Linked DNA regions of Homo sapiens. The protein of the gene in region 4 purifies or fractionates together with the protein of the main gene of each other region. This does not show direct contact. Each region holds a gene or a part of one and is shown on either strand. Other genes may lie near its edges.

Region 1 (3,500 bases), on a different chromosome or scaffold from region 4:
GTAAACAGCAGTTTAGTTTTATACTATTATTAGTACTTAGCTTATTTATATTGTGAGTTAAGTAACTTTCTGTGGGCTTATCAGGAGAACTAGCCAAACTTTATTATGTTGATTGTATGAGAAAATGCATTTTTACATTCCAATCAAGTGACTCAAAAATACTACTCAGTTGAACCATGTGAAATTGTTGATTGATATTCAACCATTTTTGACAAAAATGGCAGTTTATTTTGAAATGCAGTCCTGTTGACAAGATGGAAATTACCTACACATTGATTTATTAATTTTATATTTAATACATTCATGTATCCTTCAAGATGCTAATCCTACACCTTAAGGATATTGGGTAAATCACAGAATTTTGAAGAAAATTTGTGTGGAATATTGGGGCTTTCTTGGGTCCAACCCATTTTTTTTCCACTTAATCAGAGATGGAGCAGACATGAGGACTCTGGAATTTTTTATTTTTTGAACTGATAATAGAATGAAAATGCAGATTCATTTGTTCTATTTTAGGCCCCAAATTAACCATTCTATTTTGAAGATTAAGTTTAATAATAATAGTAATAGCAAACATTTATTAAGTGCATGCTACATGCTAAGTACTGTTCTAACTCTGCAACTGTTTTATCTGCAAAGTACTATTATTATCCCTACTTACTGATGAGGAAACTAAAGTTTAAGTAACTTGTTCCAGGTTATACAGCTAGTAAGTGGCAGAGTTGGCATTAGAATCACTCAGTCCTACTACCGTGTTTACTGTTTACCTCAAGCACATGGTTTTACCACAGTAAAGCACTCATGCTAAAAGATTATGATTCAATTCAGCAAATATATATTTAAGCTATGATTATTAGTGAAGCCAGACCCATTCACATATGAAACATATTGTATTATTATCAGAGACCATTATAAGACAGTAGAGGACCAGGTACCAAAATTAGTCTTATAGACCACAAGTGCTATAGGAATCTCAGAAGAGGAGAAAATAATTGTGTACTTTGTCATGACTAACTCCCAGAAGAGCATTGACAAATAGTACCTCAGTATTGGATGCACAGCATTTTGGGAACAAACCAAAATTACATCATAAATAGCAATGTGGCAAAATCATGAATGTGTAATAATGAAGTCCAATGGGGAGCAGCAAATTCAAGGTTTTCTTTCTTTCTTTCTTTCTTTCTTTCTTTCTTTCTTTCTCTTTCTCTTTCTCTTTCTCTTTCTTTCTTCTTTTTTTTTTTTTTTTTTTACAGAGTTTTGCTCTTGTTGCCCAGGCTGGAGTGCAGTGGTGCGACCTCAGCTCACTGCAACCTCTGCCTCCCAGGTTCAGGCGATTCTCCTACCTCAGCCTCCCCAGTAGCTGGGATTATAGGCACCCCCCACCACCACACCCGGCTAATTTTGTATTTTTAGTAGAGATGGGGTTTCACCATGTTGGTCAGGCTGGTTTCGAACTCCTGACCTCAGGTGATCCGCCCACCTCGGCCTCCCAAAGTGCTGGGATTACAGGCGTGAGCCACTGCTCCCAGCCAAATTCAAGGTTTTCTGTTCAATTTTCTGTTCAACTCAAATTCTGAGTGAGCATCCTCAGTATGTGTGGGAAGTTAGAAATTTGTGGCTAGGCTCTCTGAATCCCAGAAATATATGAAGAAATGGGACCTGATGGATTATTTATTAGATATTCAGGGTGGAAGAAATGGGATTCAGAAATTAACCAAAATGTCATGCCTACATGATTGGAATAATAATGGTATCAAAAATAAAATGGTTTGTACAGTGGAGGGGAAGATGGGCTCAGGCTTTAGACACATCAAACTTAAGGTACAGGTAGACTGTCTATGGAAAGCTGGTTTTTTATGTTGGCTATGACTGAGTGGGGTCAACCTTTGACTAATGTACTTGTAATTTTTACAGATGGCCCTATTGAATTTCTTCTTCCCTGATGAAAAGCCATACTCTGAAGAAGAAAGTAGGCGTGTTCGCCGCAATAAAAGAAGCAAAAGCAATGAAGGAGCAGATGGTAAGTCTACTCAGTTGATCCTTTATCACTTCTGAATTATTTGTTAGTAAAAGTATCCTTTTAAGAACTACCTTCTTGGTAGGGCATGGTGGCTCACGCCTGTAATCCTAGCACTTTGGGAGGCCCACGCGGGCAGATCACTTGAGGTGAGGAATTCAAAACCAGCCTGGCCAACATGGTGAAACCCTGTCTCTACTAAAAATACAAAAAAAATTAGCCGGGCCTAGTCCCAGCTGCTTGGGAGACTAAGGCAGGAGAATCGCTTGAAACTGGGAGGTAGAGGTTGCAGTGAGCTGAGACTGTGCCACTGCACTCCAGCCTGGGTGACAGTGCGAGACTCCATCTCAAAAAAAAAAAAACAAAAAAAAAAAACCACTACCTTTTCAAGTGTGCTTCATCATCTTATATACTGTCCACCACAGACCCAAGGTCATAGACTATTTCTGCAGCCTAACCTACCAATCAGTCCTTTAACATAGAACTAACTATACAAGGATCCTCCCTCCTCCAACTCCAGATACCTTCAGTCCTTTCTCAGTATGTCTGAGAGCCATGATAGCATTTGTATCTCTCAAAATCACCCTCTATAAGGGCCTCATCTCTCCCGGAGATGTCCCACACCTATTAAGGTCAACAGGAGGATTTGGTTCTATTCTTGGAATTGACAGTGTTGTACCCTGCTAGCACTTACATGATGTGTTAATTCCAATGATAATTTTATCAATGTTGGTATCCACTACCATGCCCAAATCTGAACTAGACCTTCTAGAACTAGTTTATAAGTTTCTTGTGGGCAGAGATTTCATTTCTCTTTGTATAAGCCTAGAATCTAGCCTACTATCTGGAACATTGTTGGTGATTGTTATGTAAGTCGATGATGTTGACTGCCCCTTCAGCTAGGCAGTGATGTATCAATGGAAACCATCCCTGTTCTGGGTGTAATAGCTTTGAGTTAACTAGCAATGCATTCTGTGGGGCATAACAAAATGTTGAGCTAGCTCCTGGGCAGGGTCTTTGAATTGCTCTGATATTTCAGCATCACTCTGTCAATTGACATAATGCTACCCCTTTGGGCACAGGGGTTTGTAGAATACATAGCTCTGGGCTGCTGCAAAGGCATCTGGATTCAAAGACAGCATGTGTCTGGCTACATCTGCCAATAATATGTGTCTGGAGGGTTACAAAGCAATATGACTTTATACAGATGAAAATGAAAATTTTAAACTGACATTTGTTGATGTGAGTAAGGGCCACTGATGGAAGCAGTTTTAGAGGGCGGAAGCTATTAAAGAGATGGAGCCAGGACTTTGTCAGTAGGGGCAATAAGAAGTATAACTGGCTGAAATCTGAGAAAGAGCTCAGAACAAGGACCCCATAATAATACCAAAAAAAAAAAAAAAAAGAGCCAGAGCAGTAAGATAGGGTTTTCTAGTCAGTGGAGGTGGCAGCAGCATTGAGCCTTTGAATGGAGAACTGGACC
Region 2 (3,333 bases), about 93 Mb from region 4:
GAAGAAGACACAGCCTCTCTCCTTGAAAGTTTATAGTGTGTTGGAACAAATCTCACTGGTTTGTACACATTAAACACCTAATAAGCATGAGAAATAGTTCAGGTCTAGAAATAGCTAACTTCCGAGGACACAGAAAGGCTCACCAAGGAAGGGGCATCTGCAGTGGCTGTGTAAAGAGAGATGAGATTTGAGATGAGGACGGAGGAGGCACTTCCCAGGCAGAAGCAAGCACAAGAGCAGAATCACAGGAGCAAGAAGAGGAAGGAATGTTTAAAACAATGAGTTCTTTGTCTAAAGCATAGAAAGCATGGAAATAGTAGAAAAGGGAGGTTGGAGGTGGCCTGTTAAACAAAGTCCAACCCTTTACCCTGCCTTGATTTGATAAGCAATTGGATTCCACTGAAATCTTAGAATAATAAAGTGGCAACAAATGGTCAGTTCTGTTCCACAATTCCTGAGCATTTGCTTTGTGCCTGGCACTGTACTGGCATAAGGAGTCAAAGGTGAGGAAGACAGAGTTCCCTCTTTGGGGAGCCCTTCAAGGCTAATAGAGATAGACAGACAAAATTGGCAAGAGTGAAAAAAATCCAAGTAGACAGAAAACAAATTGGAAGAAAGTCTCATATGCTAGTCAGAGAGGATGACAACCTAAATTAGGCAGGTCTCACTCAAAGGGAAAGGAGTTTGGGGGTAGAGGAAGGAGGCACAGGTAGAACCAACAGGACCTGCCTACAGGCTGGATAGGAATGGTGAAAGAGGAGTAAAAGCTGATTCTCCCTTTTCATTATTGTTATTTTTTTGTTAGCTTGGGTGATTGGAAAGTTTGACTCTCATAATGGAAATATAAGAGTGAAAAACAGATTTGGCTGCAGAGGTTGGATCAGGTCAGTTAGAGACAATTTAAATTAAATGATTCTACATTCTTTTTCTATAGTCAACAAGAAAGGAGGAGAAATTGGATTACAAAAATAAGGGCATTTAGTTGTCAAGGAGTGCCAAATTTATTTTATGTTGTATTTGTAGTAGTTTAAATTTTTCAGTGTGCTGAGGCAGTAGATAAGAAAGCTATCAAGAATTTAATATCTTCTCTTATAGGTTGTGGTTGTGCATATAAAAATAATGAGATAATTCTGGAGGACAATTTGGCAATATCTATTAAAGTTAACATTTAAAAGAATCACACTGTTTGAGCAAATAGTTCTATTTCTAGGGGTCTGTTCTACAGAAAAGTAGCTCATAGAACCATTTAGCCAGTGCCCTGGGTGGGATTTGAACCCAGGCCTGTATGAGTCCAAAATCTGCAAGTTTAACCATTATGTTATAATACTCTCTTAGAGCCAGGTGTGGTGGCATATGCCTGTAATCCCAGCACTTCGGGAGGCTGAGGTGGGCGGATCACCTGAGGTTGGAGGTTCAAGACTAGCCTGACCAACATGGAGAAACCTCATCTCTACTAAAAATACAAAATTAGCCAAGCATGGTGGCGCATGCCTATAATCCCAGCTACTTGGGAGGCTGAGGCAGGAGAATCACTTGAACCCAGGAGGCGGAGGTTGAGGTGAGCTGAGATCATGCCATTGCACTCCAGCCTGGGCGACGGAGTGAGACTCCATCTCCAAAAAACAAAACAAAAAAAAAACACTCTCCTAGGGACTTTTTCTTTAAAAAAAATACTTGTTTAAAATTCCATGGTAAATAAGAAGTATAAAATATTTTTTATGTAGAACTCCCCACCCCTATACACATATCCATCAATAGAGAATTGGTTAAATTAGTTTAAGATCATCCTTATAATGGAATAATGTATAGCCAATAAAAATAATACATTTATTTAAAAGGAAATACCTGATACTTCAATATGTATGCATCAGTATGATCACACTTTAAAATTTATATTTATAAAATTAAATTTGACAATGATGTATTCCAAACTTTATATATTATATATAAATACATATATATTACTGTATTATATAGTTTACTTAAATATGGTATTGTATTTGCATATAAATACATGTGACTAAGTATATGTAAATATATATACAAAACATATATAATTATATATATAGTGTATCTATATATTATATGTATAATATACCATAAATGTCAAGAAAACTATTTTCACATTGACAAAGAAAGCAAAGTAAAGAATTTGGCCAGCACCACAACTGAAGAAAAATGAAGATATTCTATAAGGGGCCATACTTATCATCAGGTGAAATATTGATCCCATTTGCTGAATCAAATCCTTCTGCTACCACTTTAACTTCATTTGGACTGTAGTAAACAACATTTGCCCAGTGTAAGTTCAAGTATGTTTCTAAATACTTTAAGAAAGGATCAGAGAAGTAGTGGTCATTTGTGGCATAGAAATGTGCCGGTCCAACAGCTGTGATGTCATTCACACTGAAAAAGAAAAATAGCATGTGAGAGGAAACAAAAGGCCTGTTGGTCTCCATATTAAATATTAAGTACTCATAAGATTTATGCAACATGTGCTTTAAATTTTTGGTAAGAGGAAAAGACGAGCTAAAAATCACGACTATAGTCATATACAATATACTATAATATTGTTGCCAGAGAACAATTTTGTATGGTACCAGGTAATCTGAACACAGGTCATTTAGCAATTATGGCAGGATTACCATAAGAGAAGAAAGAACTTAGTGCCATCAGGGCATGTTTTTTGACAGCAAGAAATGTAGGGTTTAACAATTATACGTAAGGACAGAGCTGTCCACAGTACAGAGCTGGAGAGAGCCTGATTGGCTGGTGAGCTGGTTAGGCAGTCAGTAACATTTACCTAGCTTCCATTTACTCAGTTCCTGGATTTTTCTAATTTCCCTGGCTTAGTTATTAGTCAAACTAAGGTTGACTGTTCAATTTCTACCTGCTTCACAAAGCTGACATGCCGAGAATGAACAGGCACTCAATAAACACTTGCAGAGAGATGGATGATAAAATTGCCATAGTACAATGCTTCAGGTGAGAGATTTATATGCTAAAAACAATTTCATTTTAAGACCAGTTAGGTGAGGGTGTTATTAAATTTAAATTCCAATTACTCTATGCAAAAATTTCTGAAAGAGCTGCTTTATTCTTTGCTAAATGAAAAATATAGAGCTACAGGGAAGGTAGGTCTCATTTTTCTGAAAGAGCACCATAATGCTTGGATGGTATTTATGCTCCTATTTTTTTTTATCAAGTGCATTTTTGGAAGGAATGATTGGAAGTTACATGCTTATGCCCTAGATAGGCATAGATAGGCCCTAGATAGGCAATATTTTTAATTTCATTAGAAATGAAATTTCATTAGAAATTAAAAATATTCAT
Region 3 (3,500 bases), on a different chromosome or scaffold from region 4:
AAACCACTAGCTGTTTTATCAGGAAGGAACAAATCCAAGCTTTGACGTATTGTCAGTGTGCTGCATGTTGTATTTTCAAATTCCTTAAGTGGTTTTAACATTAGATGACCGATTCTTCGGCACTGATGTGCTTTTGATAATATATGATGAGATCTGGCCACGGCTCTGAGGAGTGTGGCTGGCATTACCACATCCCAAGCTAAAAGAAAAGGAATTCAAAGTTCAAGTTTTTAAATTAATGTTTAAAACATATATAATATTTCCCTAGGTAGCAGGCATATTTCTGTTAGAAAAATTTGTAAAACAGATACATTCTAAGTTAATTCTAGTAAAAGAACAAGGTTAAAAATATAAGTACAGTGTTTCTGCCACTTTGCCTTTAGCAACATTTGGCCTTCTTCCTGGAAGATTACAAGATTATAAAGCTACTGACATAACAAGAACCTTAAAAAAAATAGTGATGGGACCACTTCATTTACTTCATTAGCATATCAAGTATATAAAAATCTGTGCTGGCCAGGCACTGTAGCTCACACTTGTAATCCCAGCACACTGGGAGGCTGAGGCAGGTGGATCGCTTGAGTCCAAGAGTTCCAGACCAGCTGAGGCAACATGGTGAAACCTCATCTCTACAAAAATGACAAAAATTTAAAAATTAGCTGGGTGTGATGGCAGCTCATGCCTGTAGTCCCAGCTACTCACAGGCTGAGGTGGGAGGATCACTTGAGCCCAGAAGACTGAGGCTGCAGTGAGTCATGATTGTACCACTGCATTCCAGCCCTTTTTCTGTCTCAGGAAAAAAAAAAAAAAAATCAGGAAAGGTTCCCAGAAAGATCTAAGCTGATTCTAGAAGGCGAAGGTGCTTTTCAGCTTGGGGCTGGGCATGGGAGTGCGAGGCATGTCAGATACACACATGAACATTCCAGACAAGGTAAACAGAATTTCCCCCTTATTTACAGTATGAAATGTGTTATTTTAAAGTTAGCCTATAGTAGGCCACACATGGTGGCTCACGCCTGTAATCCCAGCACTCTGGGAGGCTAAAGGCTGGGGGGATCACTTGAGGCCAGGAGTTCAAAACCAGCCTGGCCAACATGGCAAAACCCCATCTCTACTAAAAATACAAAAAAAAATTAGCCAAGCATAGTGGCTTTAATCCCAGCTACTCAGGTGGCTGAGATATAGAATCGTTCAAACCAGGGAGGGAGAGGTTGCAGTGAGCCAGGATTGCCCCACTGCACTCCAGCCTGGGCGACAGAATGAGACTCTGTCTCAAAAAAAAAAAAAAGTTAGACCGTAGTAATCAATAATTCTTTTTTTAAAAATAATATGTTAGGTGCTAGAGATAGATGAATCAATGATCTCAGAATTCAAAGTCTAGCAGAGGAAAATGAACGAGATGCACAAATTGCTCTAGTCCAGAGAAAGGAGCATGTGAAGAGTGTGGCATTGTCACAGAGGTGACATTTGAACTGAGTCTTGAAAGGGCAGAAGGATCAGCAAGTTAAACACCCCAGGCATGGAGTCCTATTCATCTCCCCATCTCGGGGAGGTAGGAGTGAGCTGCAGGAGGTAAGGACCAAAAGAGCCGATGGCCAGATCACCAAAGGATATATAAAGTCATCCTAAAAAGTTTCTACAGGTGGGGAGAAAGCTGAGCTTTTAACTCAGAGTCACACGGTCAAATGCATGTTCATGAAACAAATTTTTGGTGATGATATGTAGGAGGAAACAAGACAGACTCTGACATCACTCTGAGCGCTTTCTACATGCTAAGTGCTCGGCTTCACCTCATAATGATCCCATTTCACTGATTAGGAAACTGAGGTTTAAAGAGGCTAAGTGCTCACCGTTAAGAAGCTGCAGAGATGTAACTAAAATAAAACCCAGGCTTTCCCAATTCCAAAGTCAACACTCTTACCCACTACCTTGTATTTACTACCTCTCTTCAGGATAAGGACAAAGATGATTCACAGTGATATTTAGGAGGTAGAACCTGCTGCTTCCAAAATCCCTTCAAAAGCTCGCATTCTGTGCTTCATTCTAGTCCAATTGGCTACTGTAGTTCACCTTTAATTAGTACTATGCCATGCCAGTTGAACCACTTAATTTTGAAGAAACTATAAAATATTTTAGAAGTTTGTCTACAGTCCTGGATTCTTTTTATTCTCTTTGAGTAAATTCTTTTTTTTTTTTTTTTTTTTGAGATGGGAGTCTCGCTCTGTCACTCAGGCTGGAGTGCAGTGGTGCCACCTCAGCTCACTGCAACCTCCGCCTCCCCGGTTCAAGCGATTCTCCTGCCTCAGCCTCCCGAGTAGCTGGGATTACAGGTGTCTGCCACCATGCCTAGTTAATTTTTTTGTATTTTTAGTAGAGACGGGGTTTCATTATGTTGGCCAGGCTGGTCTTGAAATCCTGACCTCAGGTGATCCACCTGCCTTGGCCTCCTAAAGTGTTGGGATTACAGGCGTGAGCCACCGGACCCAGCCCATTTTTATCACTGCACCTTCTAGAAAGCCTAAGATTACATTTGTGCCTTACACTGTTTTTCTATCAGACAGGGCCCTATTGTCATTATCAATACATCGGACCTCCTCATCTCAGTTTCATCCATTTTACTCTCTAAGCACCACCTCCTATCTTTGCATCTCACTCCTTCTATTACCCAATTCCAATAATTCTTCAACCCCAACAGGACCCACAAGTCAATGATCCAACCACCTTTTCACTGTCTCTCACTCCCCATGACTTCACTTCCTCCATATCCAGTTTACACTCCATGGTCTACCATTCTAACCTCTCCCTTATACCCCTAGAATCCCTTGCATCCCTTTCTTCCCAGTCTTTCCCATTCATGAGCAGTAATAAGTATCTTTATAACTGCTAAGCCAAAAACGTGGGGTCCAGCTTGACTCTTTATTCTCCATATCCAACTTCTCAGTAAATCCCAAGGGCCTTCTAGGGACCACTGCTCATCATCAGTAATAATACTACCTGATCCAAACTGCTATCCTTCCCATGGATTATTATAATAGCTTCTTAACCAGTTTTCCTGATTCTGTTTTGGGCCCCCTACAGTTTCTTCTCAACACAGCAACCAAAGTGATCCTTTGAAGTTGAATCTCAACGCGAAATCTAGCTGTGGCTTCACGGTTCACTTAATAAAAGCCAAAGCCCTCCAACCAGGCATGGCGGCTCACGCCTGTAATCTCAGCACTTTGGGAGGGATCACTTGGGGTCAGGAGTTCCAGACCAGCCTGGCCAACACGGCGAAACCCCGTGTCTACTAAAAATACAAAAATCAGCCGGGCATGGTGGCATGGGCCTATAATCCCAGTTACTTGGGAGGCTGAGGCACGAGAATGGCTTGAATCTGGGAGGCGGAGATTGCGCCACTGCACTCCAGAATGAGCAACAAAGCGAGACTCTGTCTCAAAAAAAAAAAAAAAAAAAAAAAAAAAGCCTGGCGCGGTGGCTCACGCCTGTAACCCCAGCATTTT
Region 4 (3,500 bases):
CAATTATGGCTGGAGACTTCAACACTTCACTCTTGATAACTGACAAAACTATGAGGCAGAAAATCAGCAAGGATACAGAAGAACTCAACACCAGCAACCAACAGGACATAACCGACATATGCAGAACACTCACCTAACAAGAGAACACAGTTTTTTCTAAGTGTCCACAAAACATTCACCATGGTAGACCAAACCTCAGCTAATTTAAAAGAATTGAAATCTTGACAGGGCACGGTGGCTCACATCTGTAATCCCATCACTTCAGGTGGCCAAGGCGGGTGGATCATTTGAGATCAGGAGTTGGAGACCAGCCTGGCCAACATGGTGAAACCCTGTCTCTACTGAAATTACAAAATTTAGGCTGGGTGTGGTGGCTCATGCCTGTAATCCCAGCACTTTGGGAGGCCGAGGCAGGTGGATCACTTGAGATCAGGAGTTGGAGACCCGCCTGGCCAACATGGTGAAACTGTCTCTACTGAAAATACAAAATTTAGGCTGGGCATGGTGGCTTATGCCTGTAATCCCAGCACTTTGGGAGGCCAAGGCAGGTGGATCACCTGAGGTCAGGAGTTCAAGACCCGCCTGGCCAACATGGTGAAACCCCGTCTCTACTAAAAAAATGCAAAAATTAGCTGGGCATGGTGGCAGGCGCCTGTAATCCCAGCTACTCAGGAGACTGAGGCAGGAGAATCGCTTGAACCCAGGAGGCAGAGGTTGCAAGGAGCCAAGATTGTGCCACTGCACTCCAACCTGGGTGACTGAGCAAGACTCCATCTCAAAAAAATAAATAAAAATGAATAAATAAATAAAAATAAAAGAATTGAAATATTTTATATAAAGGAATAAAACTAGAAATCAATAACAGAAAAGACAACAGGAAAATCCACAAACACAAATTCCTGGAAAATAAATGACACATTTCTAAATAATAGCAAAGGAAAAAGTTAAAGTACACAGAATAGAATGAGAATGAAAATACAACATATGTTACAGTCACTGTGGTGCCAAGAGCATTAGAAAGCAGAAAAGGCCGGGCACGGTGGCTCTCTCCTATAATCCTAGCACTTTGGGAAGCCGAGGCGAGAGGGTCTCTTGAGCCCTAGAGTCCAAGACCAGCCTAGACAACATGGCAAAACCCCATCCCTATAAAAAATGCAAAAATCTGCCGTGCATGGTGGCATGCACCTGTAGTCCTAGCTACTCTGGAGGCTGAGGCAGGAGGATCGCTTGAGCCCAGGAGGTCAAGGCTGCAGTAAGCCGAGATCGTGCCACTGCCCTCCAGCCTTGGTCTTAGCAAGACCAAGACCCTGTCTCAAAAGAAAAACAAAAACAAAAAACCAACCAAACAAATGAAAAAAACCTACAAATTATCTTTATCAGGAACAAGACAAGGAATGAAATTATAGATCCTGCAGCCATTGAAAGGATAAGGAACTATTACAAACAATTTTACGCCCACAAATTTAGCAACCTAGATGAAACAGACCAATTCCTTGACAACCACAAACTACCAAAATGAATAATCCTATACTAATTAAAGAAACTAAATTTGTAACGTAAAAGCTCCTTAAAAAGAAATCTCTGGGCCCAGATGGTTTCACTGAAGAATTCTATCAAACATTCAAAGAATAACAACATCAATTTTATACAATCTCTTACAGAAAGGAGAAGAGAGGACATGTCCAACTCATCATCCTAATACCCAAACCAGTGAAAATAAGTACAAAAAAAAAGAGGCCGGGCGTCGTGGCTCACGCTTGTAATCCTAGCACTTTGGTAGGCTGAGGCAGGAGGAACACCTGAGGTCAAGGAGTTCAAGACCAGCCTGGCCAACATGGCGAAACCCTGTCTTGTAGGGAGACCCCCTGAAACTATTGCTATGGAATAAAAGATGAAATGCTCCTGATTACTGTAAATACAAAGTTGCATTCAGGATTGTGTAAAGACAATGCCAGGTTGGACTGTCAGAATGAGCCAACAGCACGTGATATGCTTCCCCCTGCAGAGAGCCTATGAACGGACATGCAGTCAGGGAGCTTTCACATCACCAAGATTCCTATCCCAGAAAAGCAGATGTTCATAGCTCTGGGAATGGAATGCGACCCTTGTGGAGAGCCTACAAACGGACGCATGGGGGGCGCCTGTCCATATGGATAAGATAGTGCTATAAACGCCCTCATCTTGCCACGGCTCTTCTAGGCCTCTTTAGGGTTAAGGCATACTCCCTTCTGAGAATTTCTGGTCTAACTGGCTGTCTAGCTTCACGTCCTGTTTCTATGGATTGTTTGTAACCAGCTTTTGCTGCAACTATTACTGCTGATTAATATCTTGCTAATCATAGGTTATGGAAAGCCTGTGTTTCTGTTTTAAGGCTGTTAGAAATTACTGATGCACATGCTATATTGTAAATTCTTATCTCTGTATACTGTACTTCTGCATACAGATGTTATGTTAAAGAATTACTTCATCCCCATGTGACCATCTCACCTCATAATCAAATGACCCTAAATCCCTCACTAACCTACCCCCGCCCTCACTAAACTTAATAATAAATGCTGGTATATCCAGTGCATTGGCGGCATCGCAGGACCAGAAGGCGGTCACCCCCCGGACCCAGCTTTCACTGTCTTGTGTGTGTCTATTATTTCTCGACCTGCTGATCCGCCTGGGAACAAATAAAAGAGCCCCGTTGCATTGTGGGCTTCTGGCCAGATCCCACAATACCGTCTCTACTAAAAAATACAAAAAATTAGCTGGGCATGGTGGTGGACGCCTGTAATCCCAGATACTCAGGAGGCTGAGGCAGGAAAATCACTTGAACCCGAGAGGCAGAGCTTGCAGTGAGCCGAGATTGTGCCACTGCACTCCAGCCTGGGTGATAGAGCAAGACTCTGTCTCAAAAAAAAAAAAAAAGAGAGAGAGAAAGCTACAGGCCAATATCACTTATGAACTTGGATGCAAAAATGCTCAAAATATTAATAAACCAAATCCAGCAGTGTATAGAAAGAATCACAGCATAGTGACTCACGCCTGTAACCCCAGCACTTTGGGAGGCCGAGGTGGGTGGATCACGAGGTCAGGAGATCCAAACACGGTGAAACCCCGTCTCTACTAAAAATACAAAAAATTAGCTGGCCATGGTGACGGGTGCCTGTAGTCCCAGCTACTCGGGAGGCTGAGGCAGGAGAATCGCTTGAATCTGGGAGGTGGCGGTTGCAGTGAGCCGAGATCGCACCACTGCACTCCAGCCTGGGTGACAGAGCAAGACTCCATCTCAAAAAACAAACAAACAAAAAGGAGTCACGGCATGACCAAGTAGGGTATGCAAGAACGGCTCAATGTTCAAAAATCAACCATGTAATCTATCATATTAACAAGCTAAAAAATCAACTCCTACAGGAAGGAACAACAAAACCCATATCCATTCATTATAAACACTCTCAGCAAACTTAGCAAAGAGGATATCCTCAACTTATAGGGCATCTACAAACACCCTACAG

What was found. The genes of interacting proteins can lie anywhere in the genome.
Region 1: the proteins of CHST12 (region 4) and EDA purify together in Homo sapiens (co-immunoprecipitation; one large-scale study listed by IntAct). This does not show direct contact.
Region 2: the proteins of CHST12 (region 4) and PON2 purify together in Homo sapiens (affinity purification with mass spectrometry; 3 studies listed by BioGRID and IntAct, with this or other methods). This does not show direct contact.
Region 3: the proteins of CHST12 (region 4) and RMND1 purify together in Homo sapiens (affinity purification with mass spectrometry; 2 studies listed by BioGRID and IntAct, with this or other methods). This does not show direct contact.

Annotation. Positions count from the first base shown.
Region 1 is NC_000023.11:69,955,113-69,958,612, forward strand, and holds part of EDA (ectodysplasin-A), read left to right. Parts: intron 1-1,914; coding exon 1,915-2,020; intron 2,021-3,500. UniProt on the Homo sapiens protein: Cytokine which is involved in epithelial-mesenchymal signaling during morphogenesis of ectodermal organs. Functions as a ligand activating the DEATH-domain containing receptors EDAR and EDA2R. May also play a role in cell adhesion.
Region 2 is NC_000007.14:95,407,696-95,411,028, forward strand, and holds part of PON2 (serum paraoxonase/arylesterase 2), read right to left. Parts: intron 2,407-3,333; coding exon 2,206-2,406; intron 1-2,205. UniProt on the Homo sapiens protein: Capable of hydrolyzing lactones and a number of aromatic carboxylic acid esters. Has antioxidant activity. Is not associated with high density lipoprotein.
Region 3 is NC_000006.12:151,445,627-151,449,126, forward strand, and holds part of RMND1 (required for meiotic nuclear division protein 1 homolog), read right to left. Parts: intron 200-3,500; 5' UTR 186-199; coding exon 1-185. UniProt on the Homo sapiens protein: Required for mitochondrial translation, possibly by coordinating the assembly or maintenance of the mitochondrial ribosome.
Region 4 is NC_000007.14:2,427,611-2,431,110, reverse strand, and holds part of CHST12 (carbohydrate sulfotransferase 12), read right to left. Parts: intron 1-3,500. UniProt on the Homo sapiens protein: Catalyzes the transfer of sulfate to position 4 of the N-acetylgalactosamine (GalNAc) residue of chondroitin and desulfated dermatan sulfate.